Regions from separate parts of the Homo sapiens genome. Here regions 1 and 2 are each linked to region 3. Evidence: fine-mapped expression QTL. A gene starts in region 3. Each other region holds a variant in brackets. All regions are shown on one strand. Distances are between the middles of the regions.

Region 1 (5,250 bases), 42 kb before region 3:
AAAAGTAATGAGAAGACAGTTTTTAAAAAGTGATACAAACACAGAGTTGGGAGTGTGTAATCAGCTCTTCTGGAATATCAAACTGTAAAAAGATAGTAAAACCGTGCAGCTAAGGTCTGTCTGCAGCCGAGTTGTAAAATCTACTTTTCTTACCCCATCTTCCTCTCACAGACACTTCTTCCTACCTCCATCCTCAGCCTCACATTCTGGGGCCCAGCTTTGAGTCATCTTGACTAAGGATCCATCCTCAGCCTTGGGTCTTGGTCTGGTAACAGGGCTCTGCCTTGGTGCCTGTTTTGGTCCTGTTCATGCTGTTATAGGTATTGTCCCAATACTCCAGGTCCCTCTGCTAGAACACCTGGGCTGCTCTTGCCAATCCCCTCCCAAAGAGATTCCTAAGCTGTCAGGCCTATGGCTATTGCCCTGGTGCCTACTTGCAGACAACTGTGCTTTGAGAACATACCAGAAGCCCACTGCCAGCTTGTATGGATCTCTTTACAATTTGCCTGCTGGATTCTGATGCAATATGCTGTCCCCTCAGGCCCCAAACTTTGCAGTCAGATGGAAACTTTCCCAGAGCCTGAGGAGTCCAGGGGTCCCCCATCCCTCAGTGCCTGCCTTAGCCCTAGTGTCAAATTCAGTTCTATAGCCAAGCTTTTTGCTACATGTACCTGAGACAAGAAAACAAGACAAGCGGAATGTATTTTATGTCTATATAGCAGTTTATAATTTACAAAATTCTTTCACATTATCTCATTTGACCCTCACACCAAACTCACGATACAAAAAATAAGAAATTTCCGTATTTTATAGATAAGTGCAAGTGACTAACTGGGGCGATCAACTGTCCCAGTTTGTCCAGGATTGAGGGAGTTCCCAGACTGCAGGACTTTCAGTGCTAAAACCAGGACAGTCCTGGGCAAACTGGGATGGTCAGTCACCCTAGGTCACATAGCTAGTAAATGACTGAGCTAGGATTTGAACCTAAGGCACCTAGCCTGTACTTATTACACTTATTGAGTTATTGAACTCAATAGTTATTATTGCTAATATTATTTAACAGTTATTGAGTTATTGAGCTCAATAACTGTTAAATGAATGACAGACACCTAGTCTGTCTCCTTTCCACTGTGCCATGTGCTTCTCCTAAACAGCAGTCTCTTCAGACTAATACATAAAGGTGTTGCTTGCCTTCTTTCTTCTTGAAATGCCAATCAGTGGAAAGGAGAAGGGAAACACTGCTTTGCAAGAGAAAAGCATCCTTGCATTAACTCCATGTCAGAATAATCACTGACAGTAATAATTTCAACAAAGGGATTAATTACAGAGTCTGTAATTATCTTAGCAAGAGCTTGAAATCAAAAATGATTGTGATGGGCCACTAACCCAATCAATATATGCACTCTGCCCTGGGATAATCTAAGACTGACTGCATATATGAATATTCAGTACATGTAAATTTTAAATCCTACCATCAGATAAAAACAAAGAGTTGTAAGAGATTTAGTGGTCAGTATACGTCCTTCCATTCAACCTTGACTTCACTGAAACCATCTCAGAAAAGATAACAATTGGTGCTCCTTTTAAAGATGTCCCTCTGAGGCAAGCCCAAGAGCTTCTTCAGGTGCCACTTTCAGCCACCACTGAATGATGAGTACAGCTTAACCTAAGCTTAACCTTTACTTAGCTTAAGCTAGTAAAAGGAGTTCTGGATATCAGAGCTTGTTTACTTTCCCTCTACCAGACTCTCTGTGCAGGACACAACCTCCAGTTTCCTATCCCCTCAAACCCCTGCCAACTCAAGCTCTCCTCTGTCACCCAGGATGCCACTATCCCCCAAGACTATGTCTAGCCTTTCTTTTGACATATTTCCTTAGTTAACTTATATAATCTTCTGGGATAATTTTTTTAAGAGATAGAGTCTTCTCTGTTGCACAGGCTAGAGTGCAGTAGCACAATCATAGTTCATTGCAGCCTCAAACTCTTGGGCTCAAATAATCCTTCCTCTTTCAGCCCCCCGAGTATCTGGGATTACAGGTGCATGCCACCAAGCCCAGCTAATTGTTTTATAGTTTGTAAAGACAAGGTCTAGCTGTTGCCCAAGCTGGTCTGGAAGTCCTGGCCTCAAGCAATCCTCCCACCACAGCTTCCTAAAGCACTGGGATTACAGGTGTGAGCCAACACACCCACATCTTTCGGGATAGTTAATTCCAGAGATTTGTATGCACCCAACATTTAACTTTTTTTTCTTTCTGGATATCCATCATTCATTCAGCAAACATTTAGGAAATGACTATAATGTGTCAGGCACTGTGCTAGGTACTGAGGCTAGTCGCAGAAAAGTTACAGGAGTTCCTAAGGCAGTTAAGGGAATACAGAATAGAAAAGTCATTCCTGGAAAAGAGGACAGCATCACATATACAAGACAATATGCTCAGACAACTACAAAATAAGTTCAAAAAAGCAGGAGGCAGGAAGTCTTTAGGAGTTGGCACCCATGGCCAACTGGATAATTCGGTACTTTTCCAGGAAGTCTTCTCTGGCTAATCTCGAGAGAACCAATAGCTTCTGCCCCTCACCTTGAATAAACATAAGGCATTCAAGACCTCCTGAGGCCATCCTCTCTTATTTTCCAGTTTCCAATTGTTTTCCACTGTGAAAATATCTTAGCTCCTATTTGCATTTTCTTTTCCATCACTCTCTGTATATACCCTATATACTAATCGACATCAATGTTTTCTGCCAGCAACCACTGGGAAGGGTGGAGTAGCC[G/T]TCGCTTCCTGAGACCCAGGAAGAAGAGAAAACCATGAGGTTATCATCTCTGTGCTATGATTAAGCTACTGTGTGTTTCCTTCAAAGTCTGGTTAACCTAACTTAACACAACCTCAAATACCTGTCTCTGTGAAGCATGCTCTATCAACTGAAGGAACAGAATCCCTTACACTCCCAAAGATGCTTTCCAATGGCAGAAAGGGAGCTAAGCAGAGGACTGGCTTAATTCAGGCTGTATTAAAAGCAATACCAAGAAAGGGAAGGGAACTGAAAGAAGGCTAGGAAAAACAAGGGAGGAGGAGAAAGTGGCTCTCTAGAAAATGTTCCTGGTTTTCAACACTATTACGGGCATGACAATCATGTGCCTGCTCCACACACAGGCTTAGCTAGAAGTTATTCCCCAAATCCTACCTGCCAAGCCTAAGCTGATTGGAAAAGTGATAGGATCTGATCCAAGCTCTGTCACCCCACGGGCTGGACAATGGCCTGTGAAGCAGCCTCAGCATGATGATACTGATGGCTGTAATAATAGCAGCTATGATGCATTAGGGGTTACGATGTGCATGGTAGATAATTTATCTCATTTAATCCTCGCAACAACTCTATGGGGTACATACTATTATTATCTCCCTTTCACAGATGACAATACATGTTTCAAGAGGTTTCACAAGTCTGCCAATCTTAGAGGATTGAGTCAAACTCTGGTCTGTCTGATTTCAGAACCAAACCCTTCCTCACCTTTCAGTATTGCCTTTCATTCATGTATTTATTTATTTTAAAAAAATTTCTTCTGTACCCGCTATTAACCAAGCCCTGTGGCAAGTGCTGGGGATACAATGGAGGCCAAGACTTAAAAAGACCCTGCCCCCTGGGGCTTATACTGCACAGAGGAGATAGATACACAGTAAGCAAATAACACAAATAAGTACAGGCTGCATTCAGTAGTATGAAGAAGACGAAGAGTTTGTTATGATAGGTATAGGGGAGGCCGGGTGTGGTGGCTCATGCCTGTAATCCCAACACTTTGGGAGGCTGAGGTGGGCAGGTCACTTGAGTTCAAGAGTTTGAGACCAGCCTAAGCAACATAGCGAAACCCTGTCTCTACAAAAAATAAAAAAATAGCTGGGCGTGGCGTTGCATGCCTGTCATCCCTGCTACTCAGGCGGCTAAGGCTCAAGGATCACTTAAGCCCAGGAGGTGGAGGTTGCAGTGAGCCGAGATCGTGCCACTGCACTCCAGCCTGGGTGACAGAGCAAGACTCCGTCTCAAAAGAAAAAGAAAAAAAGAGAAAGAAAGGAGAGGTGTAAGGAGACTTACTTAGATAGGTGGTTAGGGAAGCCCCCTCAAGGAAGGGACATTACACTGAGATCTGAAGGATGTGACAGAGCCAGTTATAAGGTGACCTGAGAAAAAGGCAAGGGAACAAGATGCAGAACAGGCAAATCAAAGAAGAGACAGAGGTCAGTGAGGCTGGGTGTCTAGAGAGCTTGGCAGAGGCTGGATGTCACGGGGCCTTAAAGTCCACCAGAGGAGTTAGAACTGGCTTCCAAGTGCAATGGCAAGCTACGGGATAGAGTAAAGCAGTGGAGAGTGGAGATGGCTGGTTTACTTTTTATTAAAAAGAGAAGGGGCATAATGCAGTAGTTAAGAAGATAGACTCTGGACCGATAATGCCTGCACTCAAATCCCTGACTTGCTGCTTACCAACTCTGTAACTGTGACAACCTCTTCTGTGCCTCAGTTTCCTTATCTTGGAAATACAGACACTAACCAAACCTGCCTCAGAGGGCTGTTGGAATGATTAAATTAATTGCTATTTGAAACCACGTAGAATACTGCTTGGTATCTAGTAATAAACATGCTTACAAAATACATTAATAAACATAATTAATAGATGTCTTTACAAACATAACAACATAAATTTGTTTTGCAGACGTACAGAAATGTAATATCAAAAGCATGCTTTTCTTTCAGTGAAGCCTTTCTGCATTGTTCTTTCTCTTTCTTCCTCTTTCTCCCGCTCCACTACATCAGCAACTGCTCCTCCTTAAGGTAATTTATGTCAGGAACGCCATATGTTTCCGACCACAGAATTCTAAATAGGCAGACATAAGATTTATGTGCATACACATATGTGGCATTCTTTTATCTTTGTTTTGCAAAAGTTAAATTATTATGTACAATTGACCCTTGAACAACTCAGGATCTAGGGACGCCGACCCTCTGCACAGTCAAAAATCCATGTATATCACCACCACTAGAAAAAAGAAAAAGATATTTTGTATGTTATATGGATTATATATGTATTCTTACAATAAAGAAATAAAGAAAAGAAAATGTTATTAAGAAAGTCATAATGAAGATAAATATATTTACTATTCTATTCATTAAGTAGAAGTCAACCATCATAAAGGTCTTCATCCCTCATTGTCTTCATAAGTAGGCTGAGGAGGAGACGAAGATGAGGGGTTGGCCTTG
Region 2 (5,250 bases), 59 kb after region 3:
AGGCGTGAGCCACCGCACCCAGCCTGATCTTCTAATGATTTCTTTATATACTTATTTATTTTATTTGTTATATATTTTTTTGAGACAGGGTCTCGCTCTGTCACTGAGGCTGGAGGGCAGTGATGTGATCATGGCTCACTGCAGTCTCGACCTTCTGGGTTCAAGCAATCCTCCTGCCCTAGCCTCCCAAGTAGCAGGACAACAGGTGTGAACCACTACGCCTGGCTAGTTTTTTAATTTTTTTGTAGAGGCAGGGTCTCACTTTGTTGCCCAGGCTAGTTTCAAACTCCTGGGCTCAAGTGATCCTCCCAAAGTGCTGGGATTACAGGTGTGAGCCACTGCACTTGGCTTTCTAATGTTTTAAATAAGGTCTGCTTCTGAACTCTCCACTCATACCACCTAGAAGTGTACAACTTGGCAATACTGATCTACGTGTAACTTACAAATAGTGGGGTGATGCTTTCGCCTATGTATGAAATGCCTTTTCCTACATTAGGAAATTTCTACTTCAGTATGAACTGGCTAATTGGCTCAAAAGTCACCTCCTGAACAAAACCTTCTCTTACTTCTTCCATGCTACTCCTGAATTCCCATTTTTACTATGACACCATTTACATGCCCAGGCTGTTGTTCTAACCCCGTTGCATTATATTTCCCCATTAGACTGTAAGCTTCTTGAGCAGTTTTTCACCTTTTGTATCTTGCACATTTGGCCACTCGATAAATGTTTGTTGAGTTGATTTGAATTAGAAGAAAATCACCAGATCTCTTCAGAAAGACACAAATAATGACTGGTTTAGGTAATCTAATGGTCTCAAAGAACACAGTACAAAATTGAATAAGTTGGAAGCCAAATATTTATTATTTGCTACTCTTTCATTTTTAATTGAAATATAACACTCACACAGAAAAGTGCCCCAAATTAGTGTATTACTCAATGAATCATCCCAAAATGCATAATTGATCATTAACAAAGTCAAGAAATAGAACATTGTCAGAAGCTCCTCCCATGTACATTTAAGCATCAATTTTTGTAGAGTATTTTCCTTTACACCAGAGACCTTATCTGAGCCTTTCAAAGTTATTCATTTCAAAGTATTCATTTCAAAGAAATGAATACTTGTCCACCCGGCTTTCATTATGGTCTATCGTGGTAGTTGATTGCCAGCCACTGTCACTGACGTGTATTTTCAAATCTTGTCATCTTTGTGAAGAAATATAGACATTTGGCACTCCACTTCTATGTCTTTATGACTCTTGTTTCCACGGGGCCCTACTTCTTCCTTTGTCTCCTTTTATTGTGTGTTCTTTAACCCCACACTCTTCCTCAATGAAACACTTTACCCACTTCCTGTCAACCATCTGACCTCGCTTCTCCTTATAACTCCTCCACTATTGAAAGCTTTTGAAAAACTCCAAAAGGAATTGAATTTTTGATGAGGACTTAAAATAAGATACAAATGTGATTTCTTCATTTGTTCAGACTGCAAAAGTTAAGGGAAATTAAAATATGAAGACGGGTCTATAACAGAGTAGAAAAGATGACAAATTTAGAGAAAATGATTTACTTTTCTGCGTGACAGGCAGAAGAATATAAAGAAACTGAAACCACTGGCAACCTCAAAAGGGTTAATTTTAAGAGTTGTACTCAGGAGACTTATGTCACAGTGATGGAAACAATGCTGCTACAGAAAGCTTCAAAGGTGCAAGTAACTGAAAATGCTATTTATTAGTCAGTTTAGAAGGAAGAAAATTAATAATCACAAGAACTGACTACTTCTCTGGAAATGTCTCATTTCTTTCTATGTCACTGTAAGTTAGCTTTCTCTTTTTTATTATTCTTAACGGTTCTTTCCATTTCTTGTCAGTGTCATGTCATTTGAAGAACTGATATTTGCTGAGATTTGTGAGTATAAGCCATTGCATGCAGGGAGTAAAAGTCTTCTCTTAAATCTTAATGAGGGCTGGGCACAGTGATTCATACATATAATACCAGCACTTTGGAGGCCAAGTGCTCCCAAAGCACTTGGCAGGAGGATCACTAGAGTCCAGGAGTTTGAGGCCGGCCTGGGCAACATAGGGAGAGCCTGTCTGTACCAAAATAATAAAAAACATTAGCTGGGTGTGGTGATGCACCTGTGGTCCTAGCTACTCAGGAGGCTGAGGAGCTACTCAGGAGGCTGAGACAGGTGATGCACCTGTGGTCCTAGCTACTCAGGGAGGATCACTTGACCCCAAGAGGTCAAGGCTGCAGTGAGCCTTGAAAAGATTAGGATCTTTCCATGGCACTCCAGCCTAGGGGAACAGAGTGAGGCCATCTAAAAAAAAAAAAATCCAAAAAAAAAAACCTTAGGCCAGGAGTGGTGGCTCACGCCTGTAATCCCAGCACTTTGGGAGGCCGAGGCAGGAGGATCACGAGGTCAGGAGATCGAGGCCATCCTGGCCAACGTGGTGAAACCCCATCTGTACTAAAACTACAAAAAATTAGCTGGGCATGGTGGCACATGCCTGTAGTCCCAGCCACTCGGGAGGCTGAAGCAGGAGAATCACTTGAACCCGAGAAGCGGAGGTTGCAGTGAGCTGAGATCGCACCACTGCATTCCAGCCTGGCGACAGAGGGAGACTCCGTCACAAACAAACAAACAAATCTTAATGAGATGCCTCTAATTATATTTTGAACTTAAAAAAATGTCCTGGTATATACGCTTCAGCTATTATATATAATGGCAATGCCCAACCTTTTTGGCACCAGGGACTGGTTTTGTAGAAGACAATTTTTCCACAGAGTGGGTTGGGGGAATGGTTTCAGGATGAAACCGTTCCACCTCAGATGATCAGGCATTAGATTCTCATAAGGAGAGCACAAACTAGATCTCTCGCATGCGCAGTTCACAATAGAGTTCCTGCTGCTATGAAAATCTAATGTCGCCCCTGATCTGACAGGAGGCAGAGCTCAGGCAATAATGCTGTCTCTCCCACCACTCACCTCCCACTGTGCTGCA[T/C]GGTTCCTAACAGGCACTGACTGGTACCCATCTGTGGCCTGGGGGTTGGAGACCCCTGCTCGAGACTGTATTAATAAAAAGCCATTAAAAACCACATGACAAAAAGAGGAGATCTTTTCAGAAAGATTAAATTTTCCCATTTCTGTTTTAATATTTAGGGGAAAGATTTAAATCAGAAAGATCTTATGCACAAATAACCAGTAATGTTATTAAGACTAAGCTACATCATAAAAAAGTCCATAATACTATGCAGCCATAAAAAGCAACAAGATCATGTTGTTTGCAGGGACATGGATGGAGCTGGAAGCTGTTATTCTCAGCAAACTAATGCAGGAACAGAAAACCAAACATCGCATGTTCTCACTTATAAGTGGGAGCTGAAGGATGGGAACACATGGATATATGGTGCGGGGGAACAATACACGCAGGGGCCTGTGTTGGGGTAAAGGTTGGGGGAGAGCATCAGGGAAGAATAGCTAATGGGTGACAGACTTAATACCTAGGGGATGGGTTGATCTGTGCAGCCAACAAACATGACACACATTTACCTATGTAACAAACCTGCATATCCTGCATATGTACCCTGGGACATAAAATAAAAGTTGATGGAAAAAAAAATAAAAGAAATTCTATAATGTTTCTATGGTGTATGGTTAAGGAAGGCAAGTAAGACTCAAATTACAAGAATTAAATGGAAAGAATACAACATAAACACCCTTTTATCAAGTGAGCATCTACATATTATTTGTCTAGAACTATGGTATGAGCTTTAAGGCTGGACGTGGTGGCTCACGCCTGTAATCCCAGCACTTTGGGAGGCCAAGGCAGGCAGATCACCTGAGGTCAGGAGTTCAGGACCAGCCTGGCCAACATGGTGAAAACCCATCTCTACCAAAATACAAAAATTAGCCGGGTGTGGTGTCACATGCCTGTCGTCCCTGCTACTCAGGAGGCAGAGGCAGGAGAATCACTTGAACCCAGGAGGTGGAGGCTGCAGTAAGCCAAGAACGTGCCACTGCACTCCAGCCTGGGTGACAGAGCAAGACTCTCTCCCCCCCAAAAAAAAAAAAAAAAAAGAACTATGGTACTTTAGGAATACAAAAGAACCGTAATAAATGTTTCCTGTCCTGAGAAACAAACACTGATGTAAAAGATGTGTCTTCCCAAGTAACTATAGATAATAAAATCTTTAATTACATAGTACAGGCAATAAATGCAAGTCTGGAACACTATATATGTTAAATAGTCAGGTTATTTATTTTTGAAAATAATTTTGAAAATTGAACTGGGAATTCCTTTTCTCAAATGCTTACAGAATTATCCTCCCAGCAAGAGAACTTTTATAAAATAAAACTGCTATTACTATAAAATTCCATAGAAATTAAGCTAAAGAAACAACAAACAAAACTGAAATACAAAGTTCTACACTGAATTCTGATTAAAAAAAAAAAAACACAATAAATGAGCAAGCTCTGTTTCATGGTATGACTAAAATGGAATAGCATTAGGAAAACTGCCTCAGGAAGTCAGAACACAATATAAATCAGTAAGACTTTCCATACCTTTCTAGTTGCAGGAAATCTTAAAATATTACTCCATTCTGCCTGTGTGCAGCAAAGACAAGTTTCTAAAGCATTCAAAATATTTTATAAGGTATACGTTATGTGCTTTATTAAAGTAATAACTTGTGTGTTAACCTTATTTTTAAATGTCATTTTCAAAGAAAGAAGTCTTATCAAAATTGAATGAAAGAAGAAAACTACAAGAAAATGACCTAAAGGAAAGGGAATAAAAGAAAACAAGATCTTTTCTGGACGTTCAGTATTAAAAGTTTTCATGCTCATTGAAATGAAAATTACAAAATCAGAACTACATAGTAGATTTTGCAAGCATGCAGCCGGAAGTGTAAGGGCTGGTGGACTTTAGGGGCCTATGACTAGGAGACAGACTGGAAAACCAGAGACAGTACTGTGAACATAAGCTACCTTTGCCAAATAAATTCTGGAACTTACTTCTTGAACTGAGAAGTTCAGAGATGTTTTGGGACAGGACGCCAGACAGTTTGGAATGACTTACTTGATCTTACTGAAAAAAAAATACAATGTCTTTGATTACTCTTCTCAGAGTTAGTCTCATTTCCTACTTTAATTATTAAGGTTTTCCCTTTGCATATTATTGTATACTTGAACATTCATAATAATTCTTAATTTTTTCATAAAAATGTATTTATCTGCATGTATGTGTGTAC
Region 3 (5,151 bases):
TTGAATTTGCCAGCAGAGTCTCCGCTCGGGCACTTGCAGCAGGACATGATCCGGATGAAGGCCCGACGCATCTCCTTGTTGGTCAGAGTGTAAATGATGGGGTTGGTGCCGGAGTTGAGCACAGCTAACACCAGGAAGTACTCCGCTCTGAAGAGGATGTCACAGGTCTTCACCTTGCAGCCCACATCCAGCAGGAGCAGGATGAAGAGCGGTGCCCAGCAGGCGATGAAGACGCTCAGGACGATAATTACGGTCTTGAGCAGCGCCAGCGACTTCTCAGAGCTGCGGCTGGCCTTGGAAATGTTCTTGCGGAACGTCAGGCGGCGGCTCCGAGTCCTGACCAAGGAGTAGATTCTGCAGTACAGAATGACGATGGAGAGCAGAAGCAGAGTGAAGACCGTGGTGCAGAAGAGGATATAGTGCTTGTGGTAGAGCGGCAGCACGGTGGAGCAGCTGGACAGCGCACTGATGCAGTTCCAGCCCATGATAGGCAGGCCACCCAGGATGAGGGAGATGACCCAGCAGGCGCTGATTAGCAGGAAGAGGCGGAAGTTATTGCTCCCGTTGTGGAGTTTCATTTTCAGCATTGTGATATAGCGCTCAATGGCGATGGCGAGGAGACTGAACACGGAGGCTGACAGGGCCACAAACATACTCCCTTCCCGCAGAAACCACTGGGCGGGAGTGAGCTTGTAGGTGGTGGCCCCAGACAAGAGCAGGTTAGCTGTGTAGGCTACTCCTGCCAACAGGTCTGAGAGGGCCAGATTGCCAATAAAATAGTACATGGGTCGGTGGAATTTCTTGGTTTTCCAAATGGTCAGCAAGACAAAGATGTTCTCCAGGATGATAAAGCAGCAGATGAGAATGAACACCACCGAGGTCAGTTTAATGCTGTTCTCCTTGTCCGCGCTGATATTCAGCTTTCCCGTGTAGTTGTAATGCCGGACGATGATATCATAGTTGACGTAGTCAGAGACCGAGCTGCGGTGGGCCTTGACCAGCGGGACGCTGGTGGGCCCCATGGTGCCAACCCTGTGTCCCCAGGAAGCCGGGGTGGCGCTACTCCAGACGAACGCTAGAGGGCGAGGCGAGAGAGCCTTCACTGGCTTCAGGGGTGGTTCGATGAGTGATCCAGGCTTTTTGTGTAGCTTTTCCTTGGCTGGAGAGGGCCTCGGAAACCGCAGCCTTAAACAAGTCAGAGGAGAGAGTCAGGGAAAGAGCCACAGCATACTGGCATAATTCATTCTAGCTAAGGCACTGCTCCAATTGTGTTGTTGTTGATTTGTTTTAAAGAAACTTGGGGAGAGCTCAGGGAGAGAGATTTTTTTTAAAAATCAAATTATCTTTTTTCTTCCTTTTTTTTCTTTTTTCAAAAAAGGAAGAGGGGGAAGAAAAAGAGAGGGAGAAACTCTATGGCCACATTCACTCAAAGGGAAATGGGAATTACGATGTTGGCTGTGGGTTGACAAAAAAAAAAAGATGATGAAAAGGAAAACAAGGAGTGGGAGGAATGGGAAACCTAGAGAACTACACCCCATTTTAACTCCACTCCTGCCCTCTCACCACCCCACACCCCCTCACCCCCGGATTTCCAGCCATGAGATTCTCTGAAGCAGTCACCAGCTTAGCTGCACGCTCAATACCAGCCCACGTCTCTCCTCGGAAAAGACTCAACTGCCAGTCTGAGGGCGAAGACACACACCTCTGTCCCCCATGCCCACCCCCAGCCCCCCAGTTCAAAGATACTAGCACCACCTCCTAATTGCCATGTGCCATGCAAGAAATCAGATTTGCAGGAAAATCATTTGAAAGCGTAAGCCATTTGGGGGCTCTATTAATAACTCTCTAGGAGCAGGTGTGCTTAGGGTCCGAGGGCGCAGTGAGGTGTGGGCAGCCAGGCCCGCCCCGCCTTGCTGTAAACAGGAAAGCTTAGCGCCTCCGTGAAGCGACTGCCTTTTCTTTCTTCTTCTTATTCTCCCCGCCTCCCCCCGCGCCCCCCCACCCCACCCCCCACCCCAAGCCAGGGCAAGTAAATTTAAAGGTATTCAGTTAAAACCATTCATAACAGATTGCAGCAAATCCCAGAAGTTTCGTACATTAGTTGATTGCATAAATATTTTTTGCTTTGTTTAGTTTAGCCAAAACATACACAAAAGAGAGAAATCAAACTACTCATGACAGCCATAATACATGCTACCACATTTCTAATTTCGATTGCAAAACTACTCTTCAGAAACTCACATTAAACTGCTCCCTGGTGCATTGCTAAATTTGCGTGGGCAGTTTTATTTACTGCAGTCCCCCAACACGTTGACTCCTCTCCTAGGACTAGAAAGTTACAAAGAAACTTTCTAAGACGGCACTGGTCAGCAGAAGTCTACTTCTAAGTTGCTTAAATATTTCAAGGTAATGCAGCAATGCAATAAAATGAGGTAATAGAGATGAGAACAATCCCAGCAACTCCGCGAACAGCAGAGGCTGCTCAAGCCAAGAAGCTCCGCATTTTCCCCCAACTAATTTTATACCCTGCTCCTGGGCAGTACTAATTTAAGCCATTACCCACGCTCCACACCACCCACCATATTCTTTGTCTATAGGATTTCCAAAATTTAACGCCTTCCCTCCTATTCCTCCGACCAACTGCAATTTTCACTGCCCCTACACCCGTAGGTTCCACAGTTGGGAATTAACCTTTTTTCTGAACTCCATAAATCACAAGTGCCCAAGAACAATCTGATCGAGATGGGCTCCTTAGTAGCCCAGAGATGCAAATTTTCAGCGCCCGGAGATGCATGTTTTCTAAGTTTTTGTTTGCCTCGTTCGACTTAAAAATTCGTTTCTGACACCTAAGCCCTACCACAACCGGGCTCCCCGCGCCCGCGACCCCCGCCATTCGCCGCCCCCTACCTCGCTCAAGCAGGGCGAAGTTGCGTTCGGAGAGCCCGGGATCTGTACGGCTCGCTTCGCATCTTGCTGCTGCCCCCGACTGACTGCGTAGTGCTCTCGCAAACTTACTCGAGTCGGGGTCCCCTCCCTCCGCAGCGGAGCACTCCAATGGCCAGTCCCGCTCGCCGCGGCCAGTTCCCTGCCTGCTACGCGAAGTCACCCAGCGCCGCGCCAAGGCTGGGTGGTTTCTTCAGGAAGAGGCTGGGAGGGGTTAATGCCTTAACCCCCCACGCCCTCTGTCAGCTGGGGGCCCCCGGATCTGAACTGCTGAGACGCACTGTCCAGGAAAGATCTGGGGCAGAAGCAAAAAAAAAAAAAAAAAAAAAAAAAAGAACCCCTCCTCCCCAAACAACAAATGAAAGAAAAAAAGAGAGAGAGAGAAGGGGCGGAGCCCGGTAACCCCTGGATTCTACTGTATAAATCACTGCCCTCGCCCAGATAGACGCTGATCCCTGGCTGTGGAGAGGATTCTCCCGAGCCCCTGAAAAAAAAAAAAGGTGGAGAGACTTTGAAAACTTTTCTCTCGAAAAGTCTGAGGAGGCAGAGGACGGCCCGGAGTCTCGTAGCGCACCGCCCTGGTCCCACACCCCCCGCAGCCCTAGGAGGATCGGTGTGCTGAGCTTGTGGCCAGGAGCTCCCCGAGCCACTTTCGCGCGAGCAGCAGAAAACCTGAGCCGCGGCCCGGCGAGTGTCGGCGGCGCTCTGGGGAGGAGAGGCTGGGAAGGGGCTGCGAGAGGTACGGAGGAGACAAGCAGCCCGGGAGGGAGAATGAACCGGGAGGTTCCTGTACTCCCCCCGCCACCCCAGATCCTCGTGCTACTCGCAACTGCGGTCTGAGGGGCAGTGGCTTTCCCAGAGTGCACAGAGAAATGAACCAGCGCCGGTTTTGGTGTTGGGCGAGGGGTTTCCCTCAGCTGAGCACAAAGTCAGGCTGTGTGTCCCAGATTCTGGCCAATGGAGAGGTCGTTGAGGGGGTGGGCTGCTGCTGAGTCCTGAGAGATTCAAAACGCCTGGGCAGCTCAGGAATTTCCAAAGGGGGAGATTCTCGGCCAGGAGCTGCGGAGCAACTGCAGCTGCCCAGCAGGAGCCGGCACCCTTCTCTCACATTCTGCTTGGGAGTCGACTCAGAGGCCTCAAATCTCATTACTAGCACTTTGCCCACCCTTTTCTTTTGCTTAGATGCTACTTAAGAACGTGAGGCTGAGAGGCGGACTTGGTCAGATCTGCCTGCGTGACAAGCTCAGGACAGGACGCTTCTGCCCTTGCATTACTGTTGTAAAAGTTTCCACCCAGTCCCTGGTCGCACTGCGTTCCCATCCCGGCAGATGTGAACTCAAAAACTTCCTCCGCTGTGCAGTTTCAATTGGCAGACACACCCTGTACCTGAATGACTCAGAAGGAGGCAGAATGAACAAACAACAGACCCCTGACTTCTGGGATTTTGTGAGTTTGCCAAAAAAAAAAAAAAAAGAAGTGACAGTTAATTCACAGCTGTTTTAAAGCATTCATCGACAGCGACGCACCCAATACATACCCACAGCTTCAACAACAGTACAGTGCATATAATGTGGAAACCAAGATAACGGTCCTCTAAGACTCCAGAGTAGATCCTAATTGGATTTGAAGACTTATTTCACTTAAAGGGGAAGAGGTATATTGTGTCTACCCAGCACAACAAAACGGGGGACTTGGCATTCCCCCCCTTCTCCCGCCTCCACCCACACTAATTTATGCATTCTTTAAAGCCAAAGGAATCAAAGTGAAATTTCACACCTAGTCTGTATCAAGCATGTGCTAGGTTAATTTAACCTTACTGCTCTGTGAAGTAAGTAAGCATTGCTGGCCATTTTATTGTTGAGAGAAGTGTCATTCAGACAACTAAGGTGACTTGTAGATTTCCCAGCTAGTGAGTGGCAGAGCTGGGTTCCAAAACCTAAATATTGCAAATGCCTTGCCTTGTGGCTCAAACGCTATCAGTCAATAAATAGTTAAGGAATTGAAATATATGTTCCTAGAGGGAAACAGACTTCTAGATTTAAAGTTTTACATTTGCTGCATTTCTGACTGTACAAGTCTACAAAATGCATATAAAAGTATGCTAATGAATGTCCTTTTAAAACCACTCATTTTCTACGTAAGCATACAAAGTGTATACATATGCATATTAATGAATGTTTTCTGAAACTTCTCATTGTCTGCCTATGA

Alleles and levels. Alleles are on the strand shown, and positions count from the first base shown. SD is a standard deviation of normalised expression in the study named. Not every link is listed here.
As copies of T replace C in region 2, the expression in fibroblasts of the gene that starts at base 2,988 in region 3 goes up (moderate effect, 0.72 SD a copy in GTEx).

The links. PIP is the estimated chance that this variant, and not a neighbour inherited with it, causes the effect.
Region 1: its variant is fine-mapped to the expression of S1PR1 in whole blood (TOPMed, PIP above 0.99). The same link has a PIP of 0.9 or more in blood mononuclear cells.
Region 2: its variant is fine-mapped to the expression of S1PR1 in fibroblasts (GTEx, PIP 0.91).

What each region holds. Positions count from the first base shown.
Region 1 is chr1:101,276,600-101,281,849 of GRCh38, reverse strand. No RefSeq gene overlaps it. Among named protein-coding and RNA genes, the nearest start is that of S1PR1, 42 kb to the right of the region's middle. The variant G/T (reference allele first, on the strand shown) is at 2,773.
Region 2 is chr1:101,175,365-101,180,614 of GRCh38, reverse strand. It overlaps LOC101928334 (a long non-coding RNA gene), which reads right to left. Exons shown (of 4, transcript XR_426738.4): 4 at 4,060-5,087. Among named protein-coding and RNA genes, the nearest start is that of S1PR1-DT, 59 kb to the left of the region's middle. The variant T/C (reference allele first, on the strand shown) is at 3,003.
Region 3 is chr1:101,234,856-101,240,006 of GRCh38, reverse strand. S1PR1 (sphingosine-1-phosphate receptor 1) reads right to left here and starts at 2,988. Exons shown (of 2, transcript NM_001400.5): 1 at 2,908-2,988; 2 at 1-1,185. The coding sequence starts at 1,022. It overlaps S1PR1-DT (S1PR1 divergent transcript), which reads left to right and starts at 3,479. Exons shown (of 2, transcript NR_104626.1): 1 at 3,479-3,682; 2 at 4,126-5,134. RefSeq lists enhancers at 1,126-1,175, 3,809-3,898.